Regions from separate parts of the Homo sapiens genome. Here region 1 is linked to region 2. A link means that fine-mapping ties the variant in region 2 to the expression of a gene that starts in the linked region. Tissue or cell type: whole blood. Region 2 holds a variant in brackets; the other region holds the start of a gene. All regions are shown on one strand. Distances are from middle to middle.

Evidence for each region.
Region 1: it holds the start of BNC2, and the variant in region 2 is fine-mapped to the expression of BNC2 in whole blood (TOPMed, PIP above 0.99).

What each region holds. Positions count from the first base shown.
Region 1 is chr9:16,866,293-16,874,629 of GRCh38, forward strand. It overlaps BNC2 (basonuclin zinc finger protein 2), which reads right to left and starts at 4,378. Exons shown (of 7, transcript NM_017637.6): 1 at 4,354-4,378. The coding sequence starts at 4,356. RefSeq lists an enhancer at 1,142-2,341.
Region 2 is chr9:16,838,161-16,846,497 of GRCh38, forward strand. The region is part of intron 1 of BNC2 (basonuclin zinc finger protein 2); the gene reads right to left. Among named protein-coding and RNA genes, the nearest start is that of BNC2, 28 kb to the right of the region's middle. The variant G/T (reference allele first, on the strand shown) is at 4,529.

The DNA of each region.
Region 1 (8,337 bases), 28 kb after region 2:
TTATAACAGGAAGCATTTATTTTAAAGAAAATTTCTCTCTGGAATACAGAAGTTGTATGTAGAACTACTCCAAAACCATCATTTACAGAAAAGGGGTTGTCCTTCATAAACTAAAAGAAGTTAACCCACTTCTCGGTGATTTCGTAGGAAGCTACTTTTAATAGAACTCTGAAGACTGGCCTCCTAAAACGAGAGTAACTCCCTCAGTTGACAAAAACTACAAACAGTAGTTAGTCAAACCAAAACATTTAAAATATAGTATCTGGTTGCATTTTGCCTGATCTTCAAATCACCTGAAAGGCAAAAGCCTAGAAAGCTTAGCTGACGCCTTGACTGTTCTTGTAGAAAGTTCTTTTGCTTCTGTCACTTTTAAAAAAAAAAAAAAAAAAAAAACCATAATAGCACCTCCCAGCCTCAACACTGAGCCAGTATTCATTACCTACTCTTTTTGTGCAACATTCTGATGGCCAGAGTGTTTTTTAAACCTTAAGTATATCTAATAAAATCATGAGGCTCCCTCTAGCTCTTCAGAGGGGATTTTACTAACCAATGATACTATATAATTCCCATCCAACAGGAAAGATTTGAGGAGGCTACCTCCCCTTCCACAAGAAATGTTTTCCACTCTGTTTCTTGTAAGGATGTAGATGGTAAATGAGACCATCTGCTGAGTAAATCAGAAAGCGTTGCTCCTTATATATTTATCAAGTTAAGAATCTATAAACTGCTTCCAACCTAAGCTTTATGTACAGAATTCTATAGTGAAACTTTAATCAGATTAAACCATACGACATAAATTTACCCATCCTGTCTAAAATTAATTTTAATGTCAAAAAACAACAACATGTATGAACATCCACAGAAATTCAAACTTGTGGTCTGGTCTCAGTTTTAAAAATCTACATTTAAATGCAGAATCTCAAAAATTCAGGAAAAAAACACTTCATGAACTGTATCTGTGGGGTTTATATAAAACAAAGATGCTAATAGTATAGAAAACATTTTCATGTACCATAGTATTTATACACAATACTAGTATAATGACTTTTTTATTGTTTAATCTTACCTGCAATTTAGTATTGGATATTTGGGGATCGTAGGTTGTTTAGAAGACTATAAATAATACAGTTGAAGTATGCCATCTTACAATAACCATAAAAGCCACATTGTCAACTGGCAAATCATCTCAAACAAGTGAATGTGAACAGTACTAAATTGAACTCCTCATATTCACTAAGGCCATCTTTCAAATACTTAAGGAATATTTAAAACCGTGCTGAACCCTTAACTGTAAAATTAAAAGTAAAGGAAACCACTAACTTCAAGTCATCATCTATTTTGGACTCCCTTAATATAAGAAATATTCCCAGGAACAACAACAAAAAGAATAGCTCCCTCTACCCCCCCACCCCCACCCCTTTTTGAGCCAGTGTCCAATTTCTTCTTTTCTGAACAGCTGTATTATCCAACTTAAGTTGCTCTGCTAATTTCAGTCCCACAAGGACTAACTTGGAAGGCAAAAAAATACAAGAAAAGATCAATTTGCTGGGAAAGATCAAATGAGAAAACTGTGGGGACAGCACCAGGTCAGCGTGTGGAGAACTAAGCAGACCTGTTCTTCATTAACTGCGGCTCTCTGGGGATGTCACACACTACCTGTCCGTGGGCTTTATTGAACCGCCTAACCCGCCTCTCTGTTCCATTCTTCTGGGCCCAAGTGAATCATATCCTGCTGCTGACAAGTTAGCAGGGGACTGCGGCTGCAACATGAAAGTACTTTTCTTTCTTGTCTAAATCAGGCAGATTTTTGAAAAGACGACACAGCATTGACTCGTGACATGGCAAGATGAAACGAGAGGTCTGGGCCGGTCTTGGAGCTGTGCAGATAAAAGTAATCAAATGACACTCCTGGAATGCAAATTGGCATTCTTGACTGCAGCAATTGCACAACCATGAAACATCCCTGACAGCAAGCAAGATTAGGACAAAATGTTATGTAAAGCACTGAACTCAAGAACTCTCACTTGAAAATTCAAACTGTAACACTTACATTTTAATATAGCAATAGTCAGCTCTGCTTTTGTCTGCTTCTTTTTGTAATCACATATCTCTATCTGACAGATATCTTACATCTCAAATAGAAGAAAAAATCAGGTAGTAGGAATGTACTGCTATTAACATTTTCCTAATATTAATTGTAAAATATAATGCACAGTTTATTCTTATTCAAAGTCTTACATGCAAACACCACCCAACTTAATATTCTCAAGAGGAAAAAAAGTTTCAGACCTTTCTCAAAAGATACTCAAAACAAAGTTCAGGTTCAAGCTCGTTATTACTTCCCTCAGGTAAAGATACTCCTGTACTTTGGTAAAGTGATTAGCAATCTGGACTTTTAATACAGCGCACTCTGGGAACTAAGAACTTCATTAAGACTGAACAGTTTACATGAAACGGCTACAAATATAAAACACAGATACTCTCTAAAGGCTCACAAGGGATTGTGTGTGTGTGTGTGTTTGTCCAAAAAGTAAATGTTCTGTTAACTTGTACAAGGTCTCACTACTAGGGTACATCTTCAGATCAGACACACTAAGTAACGTGCCAGAAATAAATTCCTCCCATTTAAAGCATGTATGCGTGTGGACAGTAACACGTGAAATTGCAGAATACAAAGCAGTGGAAGGCAGACAGGCTTAGCCACAGTTCAAAGTCATTAGGATATAGGAATACATGTGTAGACAAATAGTTAACATAGGCTAGGGTAAAGGGAAGAAAAATAATACCTGCCACCGGCTTTTACAGTGTTCTTGTGTAAAACGCCCGTTAGAAGAAAAACTCTCAAGCTCTAAACAGATATATTTAATATTGTTGTGATGTCTCACTTAAACACGGCTTTCAACAATTCCAAGTGTCCACGAAGTATATAAAAATAAAACAGGCCACTTTTTGCCACTTTAATCCTGGGTACACAGGATTATTTTATGATGTCTTTTGTACGTCAGTTTTACAACAGCTTGACTCTAGGGTAAATGGGAACCATCATAAATCGCACGCTGCTTTCAAAACCACTTTAATTTCTGTCAGCGTTACTGTAACCACAGTCCTGGGCTCTTGCTTTTGTGTGTGTGTGTGTGTGTACGCGCCCCTGCATTTGACAGTCCCATCTCCTACACTCCAGTTGTGACTTTGATCACTGAAACAAGAGATGTCACATTAGGGAGCAGGGAAGAGGAAAAAATGCCAACCCGCTATCTCACCTGTATTCTCATATGTTCCCTCTATATACGGAATACACCATGTCAGATCCCCAAGTGGGGGTAACAATAGCGACGCTGGGAGGAAGCAAACTAAAAAGAAGGGAGTGGTCAAGCCCCATTTCTAACAAATCACTTCCCCGAAAGCGGACAGAGCGGCTCATCACCAGGCGAACTAATTGCACGCTTCCTCGCTGCAAAGAAGTCGCTTCTCGTAGAGGGGCTGTGCTGGAGTCTCGCTTGGCAAAGCCAGCCCATCTCCTCCACCACTTGCACTTGGAACTTTTTTTCAACCTTAAACTCACTTCACAGGAGATTTCACCTAGGGTTTTTCAGCATATATAATTTTTTATTCTGCTCCCTCCCCAGGCCCCAAATCCCACCCTCCAGTCAACGTGCAAGTAAAACAAATCGGCTCCTATAGAATTGCACTTCGAAAAGAGCCGTCTCTGCAAGGTTGATTTTCCTGCCCTGCGTTCTGCACCTTCTCCGTAAAGCCTGCGGGAGCATTTCCTCCCATCTCCATTTACCACGGGAAGATTCCGAATGTGAAGACAAGGGGAGAGGAAGAGTCAACGTGCCGGGCCCGGGCGGCTGCGCCCCAGCGCACCCGGCACCCACGCCCAGCCGCCGGTCCCTCACTCGGCGGCAAGTTGTAAAAGTTCCCGTAGGTCCCAGCCGCCTTCCTCTCTTCCCCGAGCTCCTGCCAGCGCTCCATTCATCCCCCACTCCCCTCCACCTCGTCCCCCCAGCCCGTCCCCAACGCCCTGGAGCCTCCCCTAGCCAGCCGCTCACCTTCGCGCGGAAGCCGCGAGCGGGGCCGACCTTGAGAAGCCCCCTCTCACGTGCACCCTCCCACCTAGAGCTCGCCTCAGAAACTTGGGGCCAAGTTTAGGGGAGGCCACTGGGAGCGCAGCGGGGATCAGGTCGGACCGGGGTTCTGGTCCCCGGCCCGCCCTCCTCAGCGCCCCTTGCCCCTCACGCCGCGGGCCGGAGGGCGGACACGGCCCCCGGGCGGCCCCGGTGGCGCTCGGGCGCGGGGGTCATTTCTGAGGAAGTCTAGAATAAAAGAGGAAGGAGGGTGGAAACTTCTTACCATCTCGGCATGCTGGTTGTCAAGTGCAGCCCCCGCCTCTTGGTCTCCTCTTAGCGGCCGCGCCTGGACCAGCCCCTCGGCCGCCGCTGGCTCCCTCCGTCTCGGCCTTTCTCTCCCTCCCCCTCCGAGTTCCTCCGGGCCTCCGCTCTCGCCGCCTCCGCCTCCCCGCCCGCCCGCGCGCGCCCTCGCCGCGGCCCCTCTGCGCTCAGGTGACTGATTTACACTCGCGCCGGGGTCGCGCTCGCGCCCCGAGTCCCAGCCGGCACGGTTCCCCGGCTCCTCCTCGGGACAAAAAAAAAAAAAAAGGGAACGGCTTGTCCCGGGAGGGGGCTGCCCTGCTCGCGGGAGGCGGGGGACCGGCGGGCGAGGTGACCTCGGCGGCCGTGCAAGCCCCACAAGTTTTTCCTCTCTCTGCAGAATTGTCGTGACTACAATGTTGCTTCCCTTTTGCAAAATAAAAGTCGGTCGTTGTGTTGTTTGTCCTCAGAGGTCCAGGGGCTTGGGGAAGGAGGATGTATGTTTCTCCCTCCCCCCACCGCCCCGTGACTTCTTTGGGGGCTTGTTTGTTGTTTGGGTTGTTCTTGCTCTCTCTTTCTGGGGATGGAAAAAACAACTTTGTGGGGATGGAAAAACAACCCTGGCGCCCCCCCCCCCCCCCGGGGAGCTGCGGGCGTGGAGGTAGAGGTGGCCGCTAGCGCCCAGCTGTCACACACACACAAAAAAAAATTGCGGGGCGGGGGTGGGGAGCGGAGCAAGGAGAGGAGGCTGCGAAACGCCGAGGAAAGGGCGCGAACTTTATTCCGACTGCAGCAAACCGCGGCAGCTCTTTCCTTTTCGGGCACTCGGGCGTCTCTGTCCCCTTTGACCAGTTCCTCCTCCCCAGCCCCGCACGCCCCCTCCTCCCCTGCCCCTTCCCCAGCGTCCCAGCCGCGGCCGACCCGGCTCCCCGCGACCCTCTCAGCCCAGCTCCTCCGCGCGCCGCTGGGGAGAAGGCGAGTGAGGCGGAGGAAAACCCAGCGGACAGAAACCTGGGACGCGAACGTGCTGGGAGAAAAGGCCAAAAGTTGCGCGCAGCTGGGGGAAAAAAGTTTTTCTGGTGGCGGAGCGTTTTGTGCCGGCCCAGACGCCGGCTTGCGGCGAGGGCTTCCTTCCCTTTCCCGTGGTCTGGGCCGCGGGCCTCGGGCTGGAGAGGAAGGAGGCTGTCGCGCCCGCGGGGGAAAGAACAGTCACATCTGTGGGTGACACTCAGCCGACCCAAGTCACCCTGCCCTGGAGACTCAGAAACGCCGACTACAGCCTAAGCGCGCACACGCCTGCAGCTGAACGATATTTCTTAAATACAGGCAAAACACACTCCCCGGCCGCAAGAATGGGGCGGGGGTGGGGGGGGAGCTTAATCATCATCATCTAACTAACGTACACTTTGTGCCAAAAACATCTCCGAGTTATGCAGATTTATCATAACTACAGCAAACTTTCTGGTTATCTAACATGGGAGGAAGGCATAGGTTTCAAGCATACTCCCTGAGCACTAAGAAATCAGAGAATCGGCGAAGACTTGGCAGAACAGCAGGTATGGTTACCGGTTCCTAGTGAAAAGTGAGAATCATCCCTTCTTCCCTTCTCTCTTCCTCAAACGGAGAGAGAGAGAGAGAGAGACTACTTAATTGCATTCAGAGGACAGAATTAAATTCCTTTGAAAATATGTAGCCTTGGAATTACATGGTTTTATTTTCTTTGCAGAGTCCGGTCTTAGTTTAATATAAATTTTCACAGTAACTGATTTTTTTAAATTTTTCGGGAGCCGCTGATGAGAGTCCCAAGTAGCCACAGCTGTCTTGAAAATGTGATTAGGTGGCCGGGCGCGGTGGCTCACGCCTATAATCCAACTTTGGGAGGCCGAGGCGGACGGATCGCCTGAGGTCAGGAGTTCGAGACCGGCCTGACCAACATGGTGAAACCCCATCTCTACTAAAAATACAAAAATTAGCCAACTGTGGTGGCGGGCGCCTGTAATCCCAGCTACTCAGGAGGCTGAGGCAGGAGAATTGCTTGAACCCGGGAGATGGAGGTTGCAGTGAGCCGAGATCGTGCCATTGCACTCCAGCCTGGGCGACAGAGGGAGACTCCATCTGCAAAAAAAAAAAAAAAGAAAGAAAATGGGATTAGGCTTATTATTCACGTGGATCCAGCTTTTTAACACGCACTTGCAGTTCCCTATACTGATTGGGTCCAAATTCCTGACTGTTTCCTGGCCCTTTCAAAGATTTCTGCATTCGTGGATTCTGTGCATCATTTTGTTGTGGAAAAATGTGTGGTAAACACTTCTCGCATATTATTTATCGTAAATACCTTAGAGTTCTGGGGACAGGTTGCATCTGCAGGTTTCCAATGAAAGACAAGATTACTTCTCTCACTACAGCATAAATCAAAGTATAGACTAGATCTCCCAACGACCATCTATATATATATATATTTAAATGTGTGTTATCTAAGAAGGCTCATCTTTAAATGATTTGATTAAGGTGTAGAGCATGTTCCCTTATTCTCTAAACATAACTAACATCATCCTGTAGTTTGCAGAAACTGATTACACAAGGGATAATGATGACCAAATGTGCATTTTGAAAAATTGAGGATCATCACAAGAATTTTCCAGAAATGGGCCAAGTTCCAGTATGTTTTTCTTGCATCATGGAGAGATGAGAAAAGCTAGTTGCTAATTTCAGAATCATTACCTATACAAATCCATTCACACACTTACCGCTTTGGACAAGTGACAGATCAGCAATTGCCAAACAATTGTATTCACACAGTGCATTTTTGGCTGCGCACCTACACTGACCAACATGCAGAAGTTACTCCACATCAAGCGACCTGTAATTTACATTCCCCTGATTGGTTCCACATCTGTCTGTTTTTGACGTTAGCATAACAAACAATTTATGTGAGGCAAGATGCGTCTGTTTGGGATCTCATGCCTTTCTGGAGAGTCATCATGATAAAAATGGGGCATGTGTTAGGCTGAAGAGCAGCACTTGGAGAAGGTGGAAGAATTTACAGGAGGAAGCAAAGCCTAGCATTTAAGAGGATTCCATAGTCTCATTTCATCTAGCGGTCTGTATGGCAATTGGAATAAAACCTTAAGTCCTTTTTGTATCCTGCAAGACCTGAATTATCTAAACCTGCCTGACTTTTTCGACTGTTTTATACCATTTGTTCATTACCATGGTGGACTACACTCAAGTCACATTGGCTTCCTTTCTGTTCCTCTAACTTGCAAAGCTCCTTCCTGCTCTTTGTCCCTGCTGTTCTACCTGGAGTGTTCTCCCAAGTTTTCCAATGATTCCTTCTTATCATTTATATCTCAGCTCTAATAGCAATTCTGCAGACTCTAGTTTAAATAGCCCTTGGCCCACCACTCAAAACACCCCTCATACTTCCTGTTATTACTTATTGTTGTATCCCTTTTCTATCCCTTATCAATATCTGAAATTGTCTTCTTAGTTTATATATTTATTATTTTTCTTCAACTAAAATGGAAGCTCCATAAGGGAAACAACTGTGCTGCAGGTCCTTGAATAACATCGTTTCATTCAATGTCGTTTCATTCAACGTCCTTTTGTTACAAGGCTGAGAAAAAAAAAAAAAAACTGATTCCAGCCAGGGCCACTGTATGTGTGGCATTTGCACATTCTCCCCATTGTCTGCATGGGTCTTCTCTGGATACTCCAGTTTCCTCCCACATCCCAAAGATATGCCCCTTGGGTTCATTGGAGTATCCACATGGTCCCAGTGTGAGTGATTGTGAGTGTGTGTGAGTGTGCCCTGCAGGGACTGATGGCCTGTCCAGGGTTGGTTCCTGCCTTGCACCCTGAGCTGTCTAGATTGGCTCCAGCCACCTGCACCTCAGAACTGGAATAGCTGGGTAAATATTTTAATTATCTAGCTGGGCATGGTGGCTCACACCTGTAATCCCAGCAC
Region 2 (8,337 bases):
TTCAACCTACCACATATTTTTAACCAAAAATGTTTCTTTGGAATTTTTTTCCATGTACAAATACATACTGACAGTTTAATTCTAGATAGACTTTTACAGGAAAAACAAAGCAGGCCAGGCATGGTGGCTCACACCTGCAATCCCAGCACTTTGGGAGGCCAAGGCGGGCGGATCACCTGAGGTCAGGAGTTCAAGATCAGCCTGGCCAACATGGAGAAACCCCATCTCTACTAAAAAGAAAAAATACAAAATCAGCTGGGTGTGGTGGCGCATGCCTATAATTCCAGCTACTCGGGAGGCTGAGGCAGGAGAATCGCTTGAACCCCAGAAGCGGAGGTTGCAGTGAGCCAAGAGCACTCCATTGCACTCCAGCCTGGACAACAAGAGCGAAACTCCGTGTTAAAAAAAAGAAATGCGAGTTGTTACCTCAAATGTTTTAGTTCTGTGGATGTCACTGTAAAAACTGATCACCACAGAATCACATCACACTACCACATATGAACTGCATAATGGTAAATCCAGTGTTTTCAGATTCCCCAACTTAGACTTCAAAGTAGACATGATCTTCACCTGGTAGCTCACAGTTGCTCTTAGGTAAAATTGTATTTCAACTATGGATTCAACATTATTTATAGTGTACTTATTGTATGCGTGGCTTATGCTAGGTTGGGTGATTCCAACATGAGTAAAACATGACTCCTGACCCACAGTAAGGACAACATTAATAGTACTTGAGAAAGATACAAAGAAATACAAAAAGGCTATTGTATTGGTCTATGTGTGCCACAAATGTGGTTGCTACATACAGTTTCTTAAGGAACACACGTGAAAGAAAACTACTAATTTCACTAGTCAGTAGAGGTGAGCTAACAGAAGTTAGCTCTTAATAATTCCTCCTTGCAGAAAGAGCTGATACATAAAAGTTTCTAACAGAGTTTCCAACATAGTGGATTAAACTGTTAACAATTCTGGATAATTTTCTCAGATAAAAGACACTAGAAACTTAAGGATTCTTTTCCTTAAAAGTGAAGCAATAATTCTGCAACAGTTTGTATATAATATACATATCTGAAAGTAATCTTAGTTGCTTTCAATACTGCTCAACCAATCATAACTAGCACTCGTTGCTAAGGCTATGCATCTTTTAATGCCATGTTTATATTATGCTATGTATCAATACGGTAAAAGTTACACGCCATCACCCATTTTGTACCAGTCTTCCTTCTATGTAGTACTAAAATACTGCCCAAATTACTAGTTTTGAAAGCTATCCTAGAATAGAAATAAAATGCCCTATACCAAATATTAAGCAATGATAAACATTTAATTAACTGTGGCTCATTAGATGATTACCTATCTGAAAGGACCTACTATGTTTGACTCACACAGATATGCAGGTTAGAAGAGAACCCCATGCAAGTCTAAAGCACGCTGCGCACTCTCTAGCTCTCGGACCAACGATTTCATTCCTTCTTAGGCGCCATCACTATATGCCTATTAGGCATCCAGCTCTATAGCACGTAATTCTCTCCCAAAACTAGAAGTACACTGGCTTTCAGTCAGAAAAATTAAAGGCTGATTAGAAGATCCTCTCAACCTTACAGCCAAGAAAAACGTAATTTCCAATATATAGACTGAATTGAAAAGGATTTTTACAAATGATTAGTCAACCAATGCGGTGTGGTGCATGTACCTACGTACAAACATGCATGCCTGCAAGCACACACCCACCACCACCCCATGACAGTCACCAGAAACTGCTAAACTAATCCCAGAACTCCTTCCAATGACCCAAGCAAGACACAGCTGCAGGATTCTCTTCTCAATAGCCTTTACCAATCTATCAATATTGATAAGAGTTGAAACCTGTTTTCCATCTTTAACTTACTCTTTACATCTTTACTGTTTTACATCTTTAACTTCAGATAAGGAGGTCTAAAGAAGTACCAAAGAAGTTACAAAGATCAAACAGGCAGTCAGTGACAGAGTCTGGGTTAGAAAAAAATCCAGACCTTGTGCCTTCTGGTCCATACCACAGAGCCTATCTGCAATGTTTATCACATACCCACTAAACCTTACTATTCCTTAATTTCTCTGTGTCCTGATCATTTAACTTCTTACCATCTCATTTTGGCAGCCACATACGCTCCTCTCCCTTTTGCTTTTACAGAATCCAATGCCCCTGGCATAAAAGGGGAGAGAACTTACTGCCATTTCATATCCACGCAGTTAATGAATGCCCATAGTTAACATGGCGTCTCCCCCTTAAGCCACTAGCTGTCACTCAAAAGTTCACTCTAAAGCTTGACCTTTGCTTCTGCTCAGAAGTATTTATTCACCCTATCACAAGTGTTTTTCCTTTAATGTCATGATGGCAAAAATACTGCAGTGGTTGTATGCCTTTCCAAATACGCACATCTGTGACAAACACTATACAGTTTTGTCACTAAGACTCAAGAACTTAGATGGTAAGATATACCAAAAGCAAAAAAGAATTACCAGGTCAAGGGACTGGGTAAAATTGGTATTCCTATGCTTGTTACCTGCCACAGAAACCAAGTACAATGTTTATAAACCTGACACCAAATAAACATTTCAATCATAGTTATTTCAGCAGTTCTAATGTCAAATGAGCCTACAACTGCTCATCAGAGAAGGGTTACCACATGTATGCACTCAGATTGGAAAATATCTTCACTACTCTTTAAATACCATAACATATTTTGGCCACTCCACAATAAACAGGCCTAACTGTAGATAATATTGTATCTAACAAAATCAGCTTTTTTGACTGAAATCCCACCAGTTCCACCACTATAACCTCTCAGCTAGGGTAATTAGTATTTTCGTTGTTCTTCCGATTCCACATTTGAACACTGTAGTTCTCTACTTCACGGGCAGAAATGACCTCATGGGCAATGTTCTAGGCAGATAAAAAGGTCACAAATTAATGGGCAAAAGAGTCCTTTCTTTAAACAACACATAAGCAAATCTGAAAGATATCCACCGTTTTAATGAGTTTTTGTTTGTCAGGCACTGTGCTGATCCTTACCCAAACTATGTCTTATTGAATTCTCATTCCAACCCTAAGCAATGACAGTTATTACCCTCCATATTTAAAAATGAGGAAATCCAGGCTTAAAGAAATTCTGTCCCTTGTCAAACTTCCCACAGCATAGTTGGGATTCAAACTCAGGACTCCGACGCTTTCTATACCTACACTGCCTATGCTACTTCCACTACACTATAAATACTTAGAAAACATTTGTAAAAATGTTGTGAGGCCATCAGAACTGTAACTAATTATTCCTCAAAATGTAGATATCCTGGCTAAACTGTATGTCCATAATCAAACCATCATATCATCAAAAGCTAATCAAACCAGGGCATAAGGTCTGTGTGGGTCATTTAAGTTAACAATGGAACCCTTATGATCCTTGAGTGGTTTCACTGCACTGTGGTATTCACCATGCCTTCTTATAAAATCAAAAATACAAAGTTTGAAAATGTTTAAACACTTAAAACGTGAAAAAAAAGATAAAATACTTCAAAATAAAAGATTAATCCATGAAAAGAGCTGCATGCATGATGACTGCCCATTGCAAAAGATGTATTTCCGAAGCCTATGTCTGCAAGACATTATTATCAAATTTGTTTTTTTTTTTTGAGACAGAGTTTCACTCTTGTTGCCCAGGCTGGAGTGCAATGGCACAATCTCAGCTTACTGCAACCTCCACCTCCCGAGTTCAAGTGATTCTCCTGCCTCAGCCTCCCAAGTAGCTGGGATTACAGGCATGCACTACCACGTCCATCTAATTTTCTATTTTTAGTAGAGACAGGGTTTCACCACTTTTGGTCAGGCTGGTCTCGAACTCCTGACCTCAGATGATCCACCTGCCTCGGCCTCCCAAAGTGCTGGTATTACAGGCGTGAGCCACACACCCGGCCTGCAAGACATTATTTAATGCACATATTTTTTGGAGTTTTGAAGCTGCTTTGCCTTATGTTATTTTAACATATGAACCTCCACTATGATTTTTAGTATCTTGCAAACTGTTGACCTACCAAACTAGTAAGAGAAATTCACTTAGAAAAGATGCTGGCATTAGAATTTCCAAAATAGTTCATGTAGATATAAGTATGATACTTTCTGTTTCTGTGATAGGAAAAAGAAACGAATGGGTGTTTGGCACTTGCATTACACAGATACCATGCTAGGAATTTTCACATATGTCATCTCAGAAACACTCCAGCATAAATATTATTATACCTATTTTATAGAAAACAGTGGGTCAAAAAGTAAAAGATGCTAAGGGCTGGGGAGGGAGAATGGAGGATTTACTGTTGAGGATAGAGTTTCTCTGTGGAGTGACGAAAGCGTTCTAGAACTAAATAGTGTTGATGGTTCCACAGCCTTGTGAGTATACTAAAAACCAGTGACTATACACTTGAAAATGGTGAATTTTATCTCCATTTTAAAAACTGAACAATCATGGCAAACATTAACATTTGGGAAATCTGGTTAAAG[G/T]ATATATAGGAATTCATTGTATTTTTTTTTTCTGACTCTTGTGTAAGCCTGAACTTATTTTATTTTTGTTTTGTTTTACTTTGTTTTTTGGAGTCTCCTTCACTCTGTGCAGTCTTGCTGCAGTGCCATCTCGGCTCACTGCAATCTCTGTCTCTTGGGTTCAAGCAATTCTCCTGCATCAGCCTCCCAAGTAGCTGGGATTACAGGTGTGCACCACCACACCCAACTAATTTTTGTATTTTTAGTAGAGACGCAGTTTCGCCATGTTGGCCAGGCTGGAGTCAAACTCATAACCTCAAGTGAAGGCCTGAACTTATTTCAAAATTCAAAGTTTTTTAATGAAACAACAATATGAATATATTTAACATTACTGAACTGTACACTTTAAAAAGTTGAGGGTAAATCTTATCTGTTTTTTACTATAATTAAAAATAGATTTGATAGATAGATAATTGACTGATGGAGAGATAGATGAATTTGCCCAAGATTCTACCATATTCAGTAGCAGAATCAGTATTCAAATTCAGGTCTTTACAACTCCAAAGCCAATACTCTTTAAAAAGGGCAGGGTTATAATTCTGTTTGTACTAGATAGTACTGAGATGTCATTTATGGTCGTTCGAAAGGTGTACACTAAGATACATTCCTTTTTTGTGTGTGAGACGGAGTCTTGCTCTGTCGCCTAGGCTGGAGTGCAGTGGCAAAAATCTCAGCTTACTGCAAGCTCCGCCTCCCGGGCTCAAGCCTCAGCCTCCACTGCCTCAGCCTCAGAGTAGCTGGGATTACAGGTGCACACTACCACACCCAGCTAATTTCTGTATTTTTAGTAGAGACAGGGTTTTGCCATGTTGGCCAGGCTGGTCTCCAACTCCTGACCTCAAGTGATCCACCCGCCTTGGCCTCCTGAAGTACTGGGATTACAGGCGTGAGCCACCATGCCCAGCCTACATATTCTTAAGCTCCTTTTTTATAAATGAAAAATCTATTACCAAGTAAATGGGTTTTAGTAAATGTTTCTGAGCTACTTTAGGTTTACCATGTAAGACTACAAATGTGTGTGGAAGGAGAAGAGGTTTAGGTACTACGCTTTTCATCAAACAGTTACTCCCAATTGAATAGTATTTGAAAACAAGCAGAATTCATGTTAGAATTCAAGCAGAAATTCATGTTAGAATTTTTCTTCCAAGTCAAAATGCCAGAACTGATAATGCCATGAGGATGCAACGAGTATGTGAAATATCTGTTTTTATCAAATTCTGGTTTTTACTCTTAGGTTTTTTGTTGTTGTTGTTGTTCATTTAAAAATCTTTTGGCCAGACACGGTTGCTCACACCTACGAAGCACGAGGATAGCTCAAGGCTAGGAGTTCAAGACCAGCCTGGGCAACATAGTGAGTCACCATCTCTACAAAAATAATAATAATAAATCTTATAAGAGTTTAGCAATTTCTCATAAGTTTTTTTTTTTACGTTACAAAAAAAAATTACAGACAGGAGTTTCAACACACATTTTAAGTGCTAGTTTACCAAACACTGACACAAAATCTGATGGGTGTTTGCAAAAACGGGTATATCTGGGTTTGAGTTGGGGGCTTACGACTAAATACTATTAATATACCAACTGCATAAAATATCCATATGCCTTTACAAATCATGTTTACTTAAAAACGTTAAGAAGTAGAATTCAGTGTTCAATCAAGTACACACCTTAAAAAAAATCAACATTCCTTTAAAAAAAAAAGATGTCAGGTGGTAATTCTAGGGATGGGGAGCAAGAGTAGTATTTTTACGAATATTTTTCTTTTCTTTTTTTTTTTTTTTTTTTTTTGAGACGGAGTCTCGCTCTGTCACCCAGGCTGGAGTGCAGTGGCGAGATCTCGGCTCACTGCAACCTCCGCCTACCAGGTTCAAGCGATTCTTCCTGCCTCAGCCTCCCGAGTAGCTGGGACTACAGGCACCCGCCACCACGCCCGGCTAATTTTTGTATTTTTAGTAGAGACGGGTTTTCACCATGTTGGCCAGGCTGGTCTCGGACTCCTTACCTCAGGTGATCCACCTGCCTTGGCCAAAGTGCTGGGATTACAGGCATGCGCCACCGCACCCAGCCATTTTTCATTTTTTTATATCAATAACTATCCAGTCATTTCTGGGAAAGGTATTATTGGTATTTGGGGCAGAACAACTCATCACTGTATGTAAATTGTTCTGCAATCCTGATGCTGCAGTGTCCCTGACCCACTAAATAGCAGGAGGCAGCCCCCCAGTTGAGTCATTTGTGACAAACAAAACATCGCCCAAGATTTCCAAACACTGTGTAGGTAGTAGCATCACCAGGTTCAGAACCCAAAGAAGCCTAAACCCCCTCCACCTGTCAGTACTTCACAGCGAACTGATGAGTAGGAAGTTCCTATCAGTCGGGCTGGGGGCCAACCTTCCCAGGCACTGCCAGGATGCCCCATGTTTTGAAATAACTTTCTCTTAGGCAGCCTATCAGTGTAAATTCGGATTTCTATCATGTTATTCTTAAAACCAAACATACCTGCATTAATTTGACTGACACCATAAAAATTCTAAGAGAAATGGGCATTTTTTTAAAATGGAGGGAGTTTTTAATTATTCAACACCAGCTTTTTTACAGTTACAGTCCTCAGAAGTCACATGGCCTAGACCATGGAGCTTTTCAAATGCTACAAGTCATAATATACGCATTAGAAAGAAACCACGGTAGTTGGGTTTTCAAAATAGGAAAATTGGCCGGGCGCGGTGGCTCACACCTGTAATCCCAGCAATTTGGGAGGCCAAGGCGGGCGGATCACAAGGTCAGGAGATCGAGACCATCCTGGCTAACACAGTGAAACCCCATCTCTACTAAAAATACAAAAAATTAGCCGGGTGTAGCGGCGTGGGCCTGTAGTCCCAGCTACTTGGGAGGCCGAGGCAGGAGAATGGCGTGAACTTGAGAGGCGGAGCTTGCAGTGAGCCGAGATCGCACCTCTGCACTCCAGCCTGGGCGACAAAGCAAGACTCCGTCTCAAAATAAAATAAAAATAAAATAGGAAAATTATACCAAGAATCCAAACCCCACGTTCCAGAACACAAAATGTTCAAGTTCAATGCCTCTGCATACTTAAGTTACCATATGACAGAAACAATGCAGAATTTATAAAAACTAATTTAGTGGCCCGGGCGCGGTGGCTCACGCCTGTAATCCCAGCACTTTGGGAGGCCGAGACGGGCGGATCAGGAGGTCAGGAGATTGAGACCATCCTGGCTAACACGGTGAAACCCCGTCTCTACTAAAAATACAAAAAAATTAGCTGGCCGCGGTGGCGGGCACCTGCAGTCCGGAGGCTGACGCAGGAGAATGGCGTGAACCCAGGAGACGGAGCTTGCACTGACCCCAGATCGCGCCACTGCACTCCAACGTGGGAGACAGAGCGAGACACCGTCTCAAAAAAAAAAAAAAAAATTAATTTAGTATAAAATTAAAAAGAGCTACGTTTGAAATATAGTTTTGGTGAATTTCTAACTGTAAAAAAAGAAAAGATGCTTCAAAGTAATACATTAACTTAATAAGAGGAAAGAAAATCCAGCATTTTCAGTGTTAAATTCTAAACCATTATCAATAACAGAACTGTACAATCTTTTCACTATTTCCTTAAGCAAAGCCCAAAAGGTCTGCTCATTAATAAGAAAAGTCATCGTATTTCTCTTTGAAAAATATTTGTCACCAATTCTGTGGTATATTCTTTCCCAAGTTCTGACTAGAATCGTGTAAGTCCACCACGCAACACAGCACAGCGCTAAATA